4 separate regions of the Homo sapiens genome follow, and all the other regions are reported to be linked to region 3. Evidence: microRNA targets listed by miRTarBase, many of them from high-throughput screens and not tested one by one. Region 3 holds a microRNA gene; each other region holds the end of a gene's coding sequence.
What was found. The annotated mature microRNA hsa-miR-3664-5p reads AACUCUGUCUUCACUCAUGAGU and lies in region 3 at 869-890, shown strand. An mRNA with a match to its seed (bases 2 to 7 or 8) in the 3' UTR can be bound and repressed. Matches are read on the target gene's strand: a 7mer-m8 pairs with bases 2 to 8, a 7mer-A1 pairs with bases 2 to 7 and ends in A, and an 8mer does both.

Region 1 (3,162 bases), not on the chromosome of region 3:
CTTTTGAAGCACATACTAGTATGGCACATTTTATTTCACTAAAAGTGATGTTAAACGTGAATGTCTTGTAGACTATTTAAAGAGCCAGTCAAATGGCTAAAAAAACCATTGTTTTTTTGTTATAACTCTTTGTGTCTCCCTCTTTCCATTCTCATCTTATGATATTTCACTCAAAAATTTAGTTACCCACCCCAAAACACATTTCTCTCCCTTCTGCCAGGGTGTAAGAAATGTTAGCATTCTGTCACTAGAAAATAAACACTGAAGAGGAATTAGCATGTTAATGAACAAAGATTAAGGAAGGTAATACTAACAGGATAAAGGAAAATGTAGACCATAAGCATCTGGTCATTCATCATGTACATGTATCATGTCAACCATTATATATTAAATCTTCAAGAGGTAAGTACTTCTGTTTTAGTGTGTTTAACAATGTCAGTTTCGTGGGATTTAGTCTCTGTTCCAGGACCTTCTCTTACATTATGGTAACAGAAAAACAAAGACTGGAGCATGGTTTACAGAGAAATACAAAACACATACAAACATCATAATAAAATAGCCATTTATATCACTATTAGAGAAATATTTTAGAGAAAACATACTTTCACTAGTGGCCTCAAATGCCATCATCCACTTATGTTCTTTAACTATCAACTTTGTTTTTCTAAGAGATGGGATCTCGTTCTGTTGCCAAAGCTGGAGTGCTGAGACATGATCATAGCTGCAGTGAGCTATGATTATAGCTGCAGATGATAGCTGCAGCCCCGAACTCCTAGACTCAAGTGATCCTACATTCAAGTGATCCTCCCAAGTAACTGGGACTCAGACTTGGGCCACCATGCCCAGACATATTTTTTATTTTTGTAGAGATGGGGTTTTGCTATGTTGCCCAGGCTGGTCTCAAACTCCTGGGCTGAAGCAATCCTCCCACCTCAGCCCCGAGTTGCTAGGATTACAGGCATGAGCCACTACACCCAGCAACTGTCAACTTGTAATACAAAAATACCTTCAAGCTGATAATCAAGAACATTTAGTGACTTTAAAAAGCTGACAGAATATTTCCATGCTACACAAAACAGTTCTATACACAGCTTTACAGTTTTAAAGTTCTTTGCTGGCACTTGACTTTATAGTTAACACAATGACTACTGATATCAACGAAATACTGTTTTTAGCTTATATATATTTTCAAAATCAGTATTACCTCACAAAACAGTAAAGAAATATCACTTCTGCTGAAGAATCCTCTAAGATGAACACCAAAACTGTACAGCTAAAACATATTGAGAATCATGTAAATGTTTAAGGCAATAGATAAAAATTTATACAATCCAGTGAAATTTATACATGTCCAGCAGAAAAAAAAGGATTATTCCTGATTAAATGAAGCATGTATCAGGTTTAGATCAACAATACAAACCTACAAAGCAAGTTACTTCTTTTTTAAGGTTTTTTGATGATTTGGTGACACAACTAGAATATAACCTTTTAGATGAAAATTGGTGACTTTGCAAATACACATTCTAAATTCCAAAATTAAAACGAAACTTCTTTTCAAACAGTAGAATCCTGGTTTGTTGTTTTTACTGTCAATGAGCTTATAGCTATTCTCTGTATTATTATAAATGAAGTCACCACTCAGTCACCCTAATACACATATGGTTTTTTTTCTTTTTTTTTTTTCCTTTTTTTTTTTTTTTTTTTTTTGAGACGGAGTCTCACTCTGTCATCCAGGCTGGAGTGCAGTGGCCCAGTCTCGGCTCTCTGCAGCCTCTGACTCCCGGGTTTCAGCAATTCTCCTGCCTCAGCCTCCTGGGTAGCTGGGATTACAGGCGCATGCCACCACGCCCAGCTAATTTTTGTATTTTTAGTAGAGACGGGGTTTCACCATGTTGGCCAGGCTGGTCTTGAACTGACCTCAGGTGATCCACCTGCCTCGGCCTCCCAAAGTGCTAGGATTACAGGCGTGAGCCACCGCGCCCAGCCTGCATTTTTTTCTTCATAGAAGAAAACAAAAGTAAAACTTCCCAAATTATGTTTAACTTATAACACATTTTGTAAAGACCCCTTAGGTTAACCATTTTGGAAGTCTACATTGTTCTGAAGAAAAAGATATGCTTTCAAAACACTATCTAGCAATTCCTAATCATTTTTCTATTATAAAAATTAAAATTCAAAAGTTATTGCCACAGTGCTTGTGGCAGTAAACAGAATGTAAAATGTATCAAAAGACTAAATTAGTGTCATGAAACATAAACATACTAAATAATCAAATAAATACTGGACCCTTAGCACAGAAAATTATTAAAAGGTTGATTTGAGTGTTAAAATTTGTAACATTAAATTACCTTCGTATTTCAAACATTACTTTTTCTAAACCAAACCAGAAGTTAATCAACTTTTCCTCTCCTTTAGGAACAAAAAGGATATTTAAGATATTTTCCAAAACAGTAAAAACAACTTAGTGTTTCAATCTAGTTACAACAAACCCTGTTGATCCTGTGCATTTCACTGAGGCGCTACACGCACCCAAAAATCATCATCAGAAAGAGAACTTGAACTTCCTGACTCAGAGTCTGGCTCACTGAATCCACCTAAGTCCCATTCAGTGCTAGACTCACTTGGTATTTCTTCTTCTTCAGTGAGGAAACTCTGACCAGGTTCAAGGCAGGAAGGATAAACACGAGCAGAGAGGCAAAAAAAGTTAGAATCAAACTGCAAGAGGCCTAATGTGGTACCTATATTAATCCATTGGTCTCCCCTAATATCATATTCATACACAGTCACCCGGTTCTTTTTCCACTGTGGGGTGCGAGAGGTGATGAGCAACAATTTTTGGCCATGCTTGATAATTCTGTAGTTGTTGGTCTCTGAGACCAAGGGAATATTATTCATTTGCCTCCATTCTGCCCTAACTGGGTTGTAGACCTTCATGACTGGGATATCACAGATACAATAGATCTCCTCATTGAAGACGCAGGCTTCCTGAAAGTCATTGCGCTTCAGAGAAACGCACTTCAGCCACATATTGTGGCTAGGATCATAACAGAACATGCGCTTACTGTTGAGAGCATAGAGATAGTCTCGAATTACCATTAGGTCAAAGGATAAAAAAGAATGGGGCAGTGGAGCCACCAATGCCCACTGGTTTCTCTTAACATT
Region 2 (3,162 bases), not on the chromosome of region 3:
CTCCCAAAGCATTGGGATTATAGGTGTGAGCCACCACGCCTGCCCCACAATTTTTTAAAGACACATTTCTTCCCACTTTCAAGGCCTGAGAGGTTTGGTAGCAGCTGGCCAACCAGAGCAGTCCCAGTCTCTCCTCCATGAGTATGACTGTGAAATCATGCCATGACAGGTGGTTGGCTGCCACTGAAATAGAACTGCACCTTGGAAGAGTTGTAGGTTAAAAAGCCACTTTTGGATCCTGGAAATTAAACCACCTACATCCCTGGGGAGGAAGGGCAAAGGGCACTCTGAGTTCCGCACATGGCAGGAAGTTCTTCAGCATTTGTCATTCCCGCCACAGCATGCAAACAACTCCATTCGCTTCTTTGTACAATGTAGAATTTGCGGTGTGATTTGTGCATGGTTTAAGGAACTTTGGTATTTTCCCCCCACATAGACTGTGAGTCGACACTTCAGGAACATACCTGTGAATGAAAAAGAGACCCTTGCCTACTTCATCTACATGGTGAAGAGTAACAAGAGTAGACTGGACCAGAAATCGGAGGGTGGCAAGCAGCTTGAGTGAGGATGAAGCACATCTTAAAGGAATGAAGTGTAATGCTTGATGCACAGGTGATATCTACTACATTTAAGCCCATAAAGACTGTTAAATATTATTGTAAATAAAAAAGTTTGAATGATGAATACTGTAAATCTTTTTGGTCAGGAGGATTATATTCTCATGATTCAGCATGTGTATAGAAAGACTTTCTTTTACGATAACTCTGGACTAAAAAAATCAGGATCATTAAAAGAATTAAAAACTATGTATTTCAGCATTCAACAAAGCATTAAATCAATTCTACTGGAAATGTGGGATAAGAAATATTTTGGTAATCACCTTATCCACCAGGCTGCCACGTGTGAGCTGTAGCTTGGAATAGCAGCAAGGTGCAATTGGCCATGGAAGTGCATGAGCAGACCCACATCTGGACTTGCATGCTGCCCGCTGGCGACATAGATATCCCGCCCGCTTTGTTGCAAGCTTTGTCATTTATCAGCAGATCAGTTTGACACTGGTCCCCCTCACTCACCCTGTGCCTTGTACACAGTAGGCACTCAATCAGTAGGTATTGGCTAATTGAGCTGTCACTAATAGTGCCAGCCTTGTAACATCCGCTTCACACCTCTCATGACTGAGACCTCTGCCATTTCTGTTGCTCACCACTTAACTGCTAGAATGTGGAGGAAATCCTGATGCACCAACAAGGAAGTTTCTGATCAGATAAGGATTTCAGGACAGTTGCATGTGCAAAACTATTCGTTGAGGTTCCAGAAACACTGATATAGAGACCCTCACAGAAGATACGGTCCCTTATGCACCCCACTATGCTTCACTCTTTGGGGTGCAGTTAGATATTATGACTTCAGCCAAGCTTCTTGGTAATAAATGCATTGACACACTGACATATTTAGTAGGTTGGGGCAAGTATTTTTAGAAGTTTTCATCCTAAGTTCACAACCACCATGCAAGCTGCCAGGGGCCATGTGATTCCTGCCCAGAAGTTCAGCTTAGGATTGAAAGTCTGGCTGGCCTTGACTCCCTGGGCTCTGGTCATCAGCAAATCATGAGTTTGGGCAACAAAGGTCAATTCCATCTGATGCTCATTTTTGTGAACAATTTGCCTCCCTCTTAGGGAGAAAGATTGCTAAAATAATTTTTGAAAATTACCTAATTTTTTTGTTGTTCAAAACGTTGAACTCCTCAATCTAATTATATCAGAGCCAAAGTATCCTGTGAAAACAAAGCTTTATATCCAAAAATGTGCTTTTGCAAAATTCTTTAATCTGTGTAATGGAGGGCAGAGGGTATGGGGTAGGAGGGTGGGAGAAAGAAAAGAAAAGAATTTGGATTCTAATTTATGACCATCTTGACATATGGTCAAAGGTGTCATTTTCCTACTCAGTTTCAATTCTGAGTTAATTTCTTAAGCCTTAAATAATAAGAACAATGGACAGCCTGGCCTGGCAGAGAGTTTCACAGATGACTTAATCTGAGCACCATCACAGAGAAGTCAGGACTAAACCCCCTACTGAGCAGGGCGGCGGAGTGTCCAAAGGTCTCAGTTCTGTGGAGCAGAGTACCACGCTTTCTGTGGAATGGGGACAGGGTCACCACGCTCACTAAAATGCAGTATGTTCCATTGCAGCAAAGCTTTCGCCTGTGTTCAAAATGCATGTCTAGCAGATTGCAGCCTTTTAAATTAAATATATATAAATGGTTGTATATAGAATATACTCTGGACTGTGAGGGCATCCTATTTTGGTATGCCTCCTGGCTGTGGATGGCATGTCCAGTGCTCTGTGAGTGTTTTCAGTCATTCACATTCACTATGTGTTTAGAGATTCTCTCCCTGCTTACAGCTGAAGGATGTTGATACAGGCATCAAGAAGGCTGAGGGGCAGATGGGGCCTGCAGGTTAAGGCATTGTTAACTTGCTCCATGGAAATGTCCATATCTTAATGAGTAAAAAAGTGTATTTTTCTGATACGTAAACCAGAATTGTGGGCGTGTAGGTCACATCACTATTTCTTTAGCAGCAAATCTGTTTTCCCAGTTGAGAGAGACAATAGCTTCTGCACAAGAATATATGATGGTAGGATCCATCTGTTCAATTGTGTCTGAAAGAATCTTTATTCCAAAGCGAAACCTGGGGAAATGTTTTACCTTCAGCCAGATGCTGTGTGTGTACTTGGGTCCCTTGTCTTTCCTCTAAGGAGAGGTGCTTGTGGAAAGTGGAGGTTGTGGGCATCTTTTCAACCTTTTCAATCTGACCTTTCAACAGGTCAGGTGAGAGAAAAGACAAAGCTATTTGAACCTATGTTTTTCTTATGTCCAGAAATCTGTTCTTTCATCAAACCACTAAACCACTCGCCTTAGCCTCTTCTGCAGTTTCTGGTGGCTCTATCTGTGGGCAAGGGACTCCTGCCTGTGAGAAGTGGCCAGGCCCTCCAGAGCAACGGGGTCTGGCTTCAGGGAGCAGTGGGGTGTGGGGAAAGCAATGTTCATCTTGGCTGCTCCATTTTTATACCATCCATCAAGGACTCTTGCGCTTCTCTCCACCTGTGACGTAGCAGCATTGCCTTCTTTCCTCTTGGTGCTTCTGGGCAAAACTGGAATTT
Region 3 (3,162 bases):
CTCATTGTTTAGTGTCTGAGAATAGCCTCTGAGTGCTGGGATGCCACGGTTGCTGTGGCAACGGCTCTTTGTTTTAGGGAACCACAAACATATCATTCTATAAACTGCAGGGCCCAAGCTGCAGGTTTCACCTTCCTGAGGGTCGCCACCCGGGAGGCAGAGGCACCAGGATGGACGTGGGAACTACCTCCGCTCTTCCTTTCTCACAGGTGCCCAGGATGTCTTTAGCTTTTGTAATGTTTGGGGCTGGGGGAGGTGGAGGTCATGAGTGTGGGGAGAGGGCAGACAGTGGATATGTGCTCCTCCTGCCCCGAGGAGCTGGGCTCTACAGGGCATCGTGGGGTCCCTTCCTCTTAGCAATCAATGCCATGTTCCACTGTGGCCCCAGACTCCAGCACCAAGCAAAGCAGCCCCCACGACCCTTAGGACAATGAGGGGTGAAAATTGCCACCCATCAGTTTTCAAGTGGTCAGTGTGGAGGAAAACAGGGACCCGCAGGTGGCCAGAACGTGGAGGAGATACACCAGGGAGCCGGAAGTAATGTGGTCCAGGGACCCATCTCTCATTCCACGTAGCTCACGGACCTGTGTGCCCCTGACTCTGGTCTGTGGGGGGCCCCTCTGTATGGGGGCCCCCTATTCCCTCCATCTGAGGGTCTCTCTTCCCTCCATCCAGCCACTTGGTCGTTTGCACCCACTGTGTCCACCAAGCGCTTCTAGGGAAGGGTCTTGTCCTTTTTTCTCCCCGTCCCGCCGAGCCTCCACCTCCAAGCCTGCATCCTACTTGTCTTTCCTCTTCATGCGTGTGGGGTTTTTTTCCCCTCCTTTCCACTGTGCACCCCGTCTCCTCTGTAAACTTGAAGGTAGGGAACTCTGTCTTCACTCATGAGTACCTTCCAACACGAGCTCTCAGGAGTAAAGACAGAGTTCCCTACCTTCAATGTGGATCTGCAAAAAGATCTGAAAAGCGAATGCCTTCTCCGTAGCTCGTTGGCAGTAGTACTTGACCTGAACTGATTTGAGGCTATTTATAGTTTTTATTTATCCTACTTAGCATGATTATTCATCCGTGCCCTGAAGGACTCCTCCCGCAATTGGCAATGGGACACTGCCCAGACCCACTGGCGGTGTGACGTAACAGGCCACACACGCATCATCCTACTGCTGCAGAAGCAGGCAGCGTGCACATGCCAAGGCACCTCTGGCTCTGGTGTTCAGGGATGTCGTCGTGGGGCTGTATTTGTTGAATGAACAAGAGTTCTTAATCCAAGAATAATGCTGGGTTTACCTTTCAAGTAGTTCAAAGGCTTCTTTCAAGACGGTGTTGTTATGGAGGATGGGATGCGTCTTGCCTTAAATATTAATAGAAATCGTATATGGAAATCTCAGACGGCTTCAAAGAGTCTCTCAGTCAAATTCAGATGGGGACTGTGCCTCTTTCCTGGCTGTCCCCTCCCAGCCCCCATGTGGCCACAGTTTGCTGTAAAACCCTGCAGGGCCCCTGAGTACCAGGTGTGTCTGGCCCGTGTTGCCTTTCAACATGAACTCTTTCTTGACTTTCTTCTCCATCAGGGATATGGTCATATTTATAATATTTGTCTCGACCTCACTTTCCTTTCTCTCCCTGCCCTGCTTGTTCAGCAAATGTGTTGGGGAATCCGCAGGGTCCCAGGCACAGCCTCTCCCTCCAGGGGCTCACAGGCTCCATGGCACACAGATGTGGCCTCAGCACGTGAAGGAGGCTCAGTGCCAGGCTATGTGGCTCATCTCAGAAGGTGGTGTGGCCCCAGGTTCTGTGGTTGCCCTTGCTCTGCTCTCTGCTCCCCACCCCCGCCCATCCTGCCCTGCTCCTATGGTGCCAGTGATCTTCGGGGCTGGTGGCTTGCAGAGCGCTCCCTGGACCTCCTCTTGGACCCTCAGACTCATCTCCTGCAGAGCCTGCCACCAGGCGAGCCCAGACCCCTGACTCCCCTTTGAAGTGTGTCCCTGCAAATGCATATGTTGAAGTATCACCCTGAGGATCTCAGAGTGTGACCTTGTTTAGAGGTAGGGTCTTTACAGAAGTCATCAGCTGAAAATGAGGTCATTAGATTGGGCCCTAATCCAGTAGGACTGATATTCTTATAAAAAGAGGAAATGGGACCGGGTGCAGTGGCTCATGCTTATAATCCCAGCACTTTGGGAGGCTGAGGCGGATGGATCACCTGAAGTCAGGAGTTCGAGACCAGCCTGGCCAACATGGTGAAACCCCGTCTCTACTAAAAATACAAAGATTAGCCGGGCGTGGTGGCGGGTGCCTGTAGTCCCAGCTACTTGGGTGGCTGAGGCAGGAGAATCACTTGAATCTGTGTGGGCGGAGGCTGCAGTGAGCCGAGATCGTGCCACTGCACTCCAGCCTGGGCGACACAGCAAGACTCCATCTCAAATAAATAAATGAATGAATGAATGAATGAAATGTGGCCACAGCCATGCACTCGGAGCAAACCTCACACAAAGATGAAGGCAGAGCTCTGGGTGATGCTTCTGTCAGTCAAGGAATGCCAAAGATTGCCTACAGGCCACTGGGAGCTGGAGAGACAGGCCTGGAACAGAGTCTCCCTGCAGTCCCCAGTGTGAACCCCCCCACTGCCAACACCTTGACCTCAGACTTCCAACCTCCAGAACCATGAGACAATTCATCCCTGTGGTTTCAGTCACCCAGGCTGTGGTTACAGGAGCTCCAGTGAACATACCCCATCTTTCCTGGCCAGCTGGCCCTTCCTCCTGGGCACCCCATCTCAGTTATGGCCCAGGAACTGAAAACCCAAAAACCTTCCTAGATCTTTCCTGGCGCTCACCTGCCCTTTTCCCATCTGTCCAGAACCAGCCCCTTCCACTTTTTCTATTTCCTGAATCTGCCCCTCCCTCCCCACTGGTTGGGCTCTCATTTTGGCCCAGATGGACTGCAGGAGGGGACGGCTCTGGGTCTCACCCCGGGTTCATTTCTCTCAGTCCCCTGGAACGAAGTGGAGCACACTCTGCCTGGGTGAGCCTCCAGCACTCAGATTCTGCTGCTGTGCTCATCCTCAAACCTCTTCCATAGTGCCCTGGGCCACACTCTCTTTATAAGGACACTAATTATTGGATTTAGGACCCTCCCTAATCCAGTATTACCTCGTCGCAA
Region 4 (3,136 bases), not on the chromosome of region 3:
ACTGATTTTGGTATATTTTTAGGGATGCCTCTTTAATGGCAATGAGACGGCGTATCAATGGCTTAAGTCCAGAAGAAATCCGTGCACTTTCTAAAGAGGAACTTCAGATGCCTGTTACCAAAGGAGACTTTGAATTGGCCCTAAAGAAAATTGCTAAGTCTGTCTCTGCTGCAGACTTGGAGAAGTATGAAAAATGGATGGTTGAATTTGGATCTGCTTGAATTTCTGTCAGCTCTTTAATTTCTGGTATTTTTGTTGATAAAATACGAAGAAATTCCTGCAATTTTTAAAAAACAAGTTTGGAATTTTTTTCAGTGGAGTGGTTTTCGCTTAAAGGAAAAAAAAATCTAAAACTGCGAAGAATACTAAATGTAGTTGAGAAATAATTGATGGCGAGAGTTTGCTAGTCTCCCTCCCCGGCTTTGTGCTGGTATTCCACGTATTCCTGCATTAATATTGCACACCCAAACCAGTCTATCAGGGAGGCTGAAGCAAGGGCGCAGTGTGATATTTTAGGAATACAGAAGATTTAGAAATACCCCTATTTCTCATTTGCAGTTTTTTTTTCCAATTCTGTGCTCTGTCAACATGAGGGACCTATCTATGTATGTTGACTTTTAACATCAAAATTGGATTTGTGTCAAACATTCATTGTTAAGAGAAGAATGACAGTATATTTTGGAGGAAATAATGAATTTACTAATTAAACCTTTAGAATTTATGACTTACTGTTAGAGTCTGTCATATGGTTAGAATTTTTACTTCCGCTACCCCTGCCATTTCTTCTGCTAGCTACTTCATAATATCTTGAGCTTTACTGAGGAATATTCTCACGCTCTGTGGTATTTGAATCATTTTGCCAGGTCATTTCTCTGTCTTTAGTATTTTTTGCTGGTGCTTCTTACATTTAATATGGAAAGGTGGGAAGAATATTACTGCATTAGATGTAATTCTTCATTCTAGACTTCCAAGTTTGTTTTCACTTTTTTGTGTGTGCGTGAAGGAGTCTGTGTCACCCAGGCTGTGTAGTGCAGTGGTTGATCTTGGCTCACTGCAACCTCTGCCTCCTAGATTCAAGCAATTCTCCTGTCTCAGCCTCCCAAGTAGCTGGGATTACAGGTGCGCACCACCATGCCTGGCTGTGTTTTCACTTTTCTTTCAACATGTTCAACCAGATATATAGCCATTATTTTTCTCAGCTCCAGCATTGTTTGATTTTTCTTGAGTTTGATTTTAGTATTTGAGATAAATACTTTTACATTCTAAACAAGTCCACTCTCTGTGGCTAACGCAAAACAAATGAAATCTTTATTGTTTTCCAAACAGCTAGTTTAACAAAACAGCATCATACATAGTGAATGATGTTCATTGGAAAATTCTAAAATTTGTCCTTGTCTAGGTTGAGAACTTTTACACACACTAAGATAAAGATAGAAATCTGACATGCTCACTCAATTCAGCAGGAATTACACATTAGAAAGAAGCCAGAAAAATAAATGGCATATATCCAATCACAAGTAAATGATCCTGGCGTTAGTTTTTATGATTACATGTGTCTCATTAGGCAATTTATGCTTTAATGGTCAAGCTTTTAAAAATTTGTATTTGATAACATCCTGAATTCTCAGTTTCGAATAGTGCCTACTGGTTTAAAACTAAAAATAATACAGCTTTTTGGACATTTAACCAAGATACTAAGAAGGTTTTTTTTAAAAAAAGAGATTTGATTATTTTTCCCTGCTAAAAACTGTAAATGCCTTATGTTCTTTTCAGATAACTTAAGTCTGACCTAAACTCCAGTATTCATCTGATGCTGTAAATTGCCCTTCTTTCTGAGACACAGATTATAAGATGCCAGATCATAAGACATCATGATTTTATTGTAATTGAATTCTTCCTAAAAATTGAGAGGTTTCCTTTTATTAACTTTTAAAATAAAGAAATAAGTAGTTTCATTACGATTATTTTGCAAACTATTGCCAGTCAGAAATGCACTTTTTTTTTCCCTGAAGTTTTAGGAGCCGTCACTAAAACATTAGTCTTGTGATTGTTAAAACTTGTTTGTAATGGGTTGGTGCAAAAGTAATTGTGGTTTTTCCATTACTTTCAATGGCAAAAACCGCAATTACTTTTGCACCAGCCTAACAATAGTTGATTAGTTAGACCTTTTCTGGGTTTTGTATTGATTATCTTGGTGTGCATTTAATTATTTTTCTGAATTCTTCATGGATAATGACATAGTAATTGTGATTCTTTTAATACCAGTTAAGCAGTATTTGGCAACTTAAACTTCCTGGGAGCCTAACTTTACTATGTTAAGTGAGTCAGGTGTGCTTTTTATTTCCCTTGTTTCTCATTTTGCCCTGTCAGTGGATGGTAGATGCTTTGTATATCTTAAATCCCTTAAAGGATCTTAAAGACATCCCTCAGGTGTTCTATTTAACTTTTATTTTATTTTATTTTATTTATTTATTTATTTTGAGACTGAGTCTTGCTCTGTCGCCCAGGCTGGAGTGCAGTGGCATGATCTCGGCTCACTGCAACTTCTGCCTCCCAGGTTCAAGCCATTCTCCTGCCTCGGCCTCCTGAGTAGCTGGGATTACAGTTGCCGCCACACCCGGCTTATTTTTTTGTATTTTTAGTAGAGGCAGAGTTTCACCATGTTGGCCAGGCTAGTCTCGAACTCCTGACCTCAGATGATCCGCCCACATTGGCCTCCCAAAGTGCTGGGATTACAGGTGTGATCCACCGCACCTGGCCCTAACTTTTAATATACAACACACACACACACACACACACACACACACACACACACACACACACACACACACACACTATTTCAGAAGACAGTGTGTTGCCTTACCCAGAATGAGTGCTAGGATTACAGGCGTGAGACAGACACACATACACACACATACACACACACAGAGTCTTTATTGCAGAAGACAGTGTGTTGCCTTATAGGCGTGAGACACACACACACACACACACACACACACACACACACACAGTCTTTATTGCAGAAGACAGTGTGTTGCCTTACCAGAATGAGTGCTTGGATTACAGGCGTGAGCCACTGTGCCCAGCCCTAACTTTTAATGTACATCACACACACACTCACACTCACATACACACA

Region 1: the mRNA of KBTBD6 is a reported target of hsa-miR-3664-5p. Seed matches in the 3' UTR shown: 7mer-m8 at 1,721-1,727.
Region 2: the mRNA of SAP30L is a reported target of hsa-miR-3664-5p. Seed matches in the 3' UTR shown: 7mer-A1 at 2,117-2,123.
Region 4: miRTarBase lists KATNAL1 as a target of hsa-miR-3664-5p. Seed matches in the 3' UTR shown: 7mer-m8 at 2,925-2,931.

Annotation. Positions count from the first base shown.
Region 1 is chr13:41,127,979-41,131,140 of GRCh38, forward strand. KBTBD6 (kelch repeat and BTB domain containing 6) reads right to left here. Exons shown (of 1, transcript NM_152903.5): 1 at 1-3,162. The coding sequence ends at 2,509. Among named protein-coding and RNA genes, the nearest start is that of KBTBD6, 3.2 kb to the right of the region's middle.
Region 2 is chr5:154,455,464-154,458,625 of GRCh38, forward strand. It overlaps SAP30L (SAP30 like), which reads left to right. Exons shown (of 4, transcript NM_024632.6): 4 at 437-3,162. The coding sequence ends at 565. Among named protein-coding and RNA genes, the nearest start is that of SAP30L, 11 kb to the left of the region's middle.
Region 3 is chr11:70,870,055-70,873,216 of GRCh38, reverse strand. MIR3664 (microRNA 3664) reads left to right here and starts at 849; the gene lies at 849-947. The region is part of intron 11 of SHANK2 (SH3 and multiple ankyrin repeat domains 2); the gene reads left to right.
Region 4 is chr13:30,205,625-30,208,760 of GRCh38, reverse strand. KATNAL1 (katanin catalytic subunit A1 like 1) reads left to right here. Exons shown (of 11, transcript NM_032116.5): 11 at 23-3,136. The coding sequence ends at 221. Among named protein-coding and RNA genes, the nearest start is that of LINC00385, 53 kb to the right of the region's middle.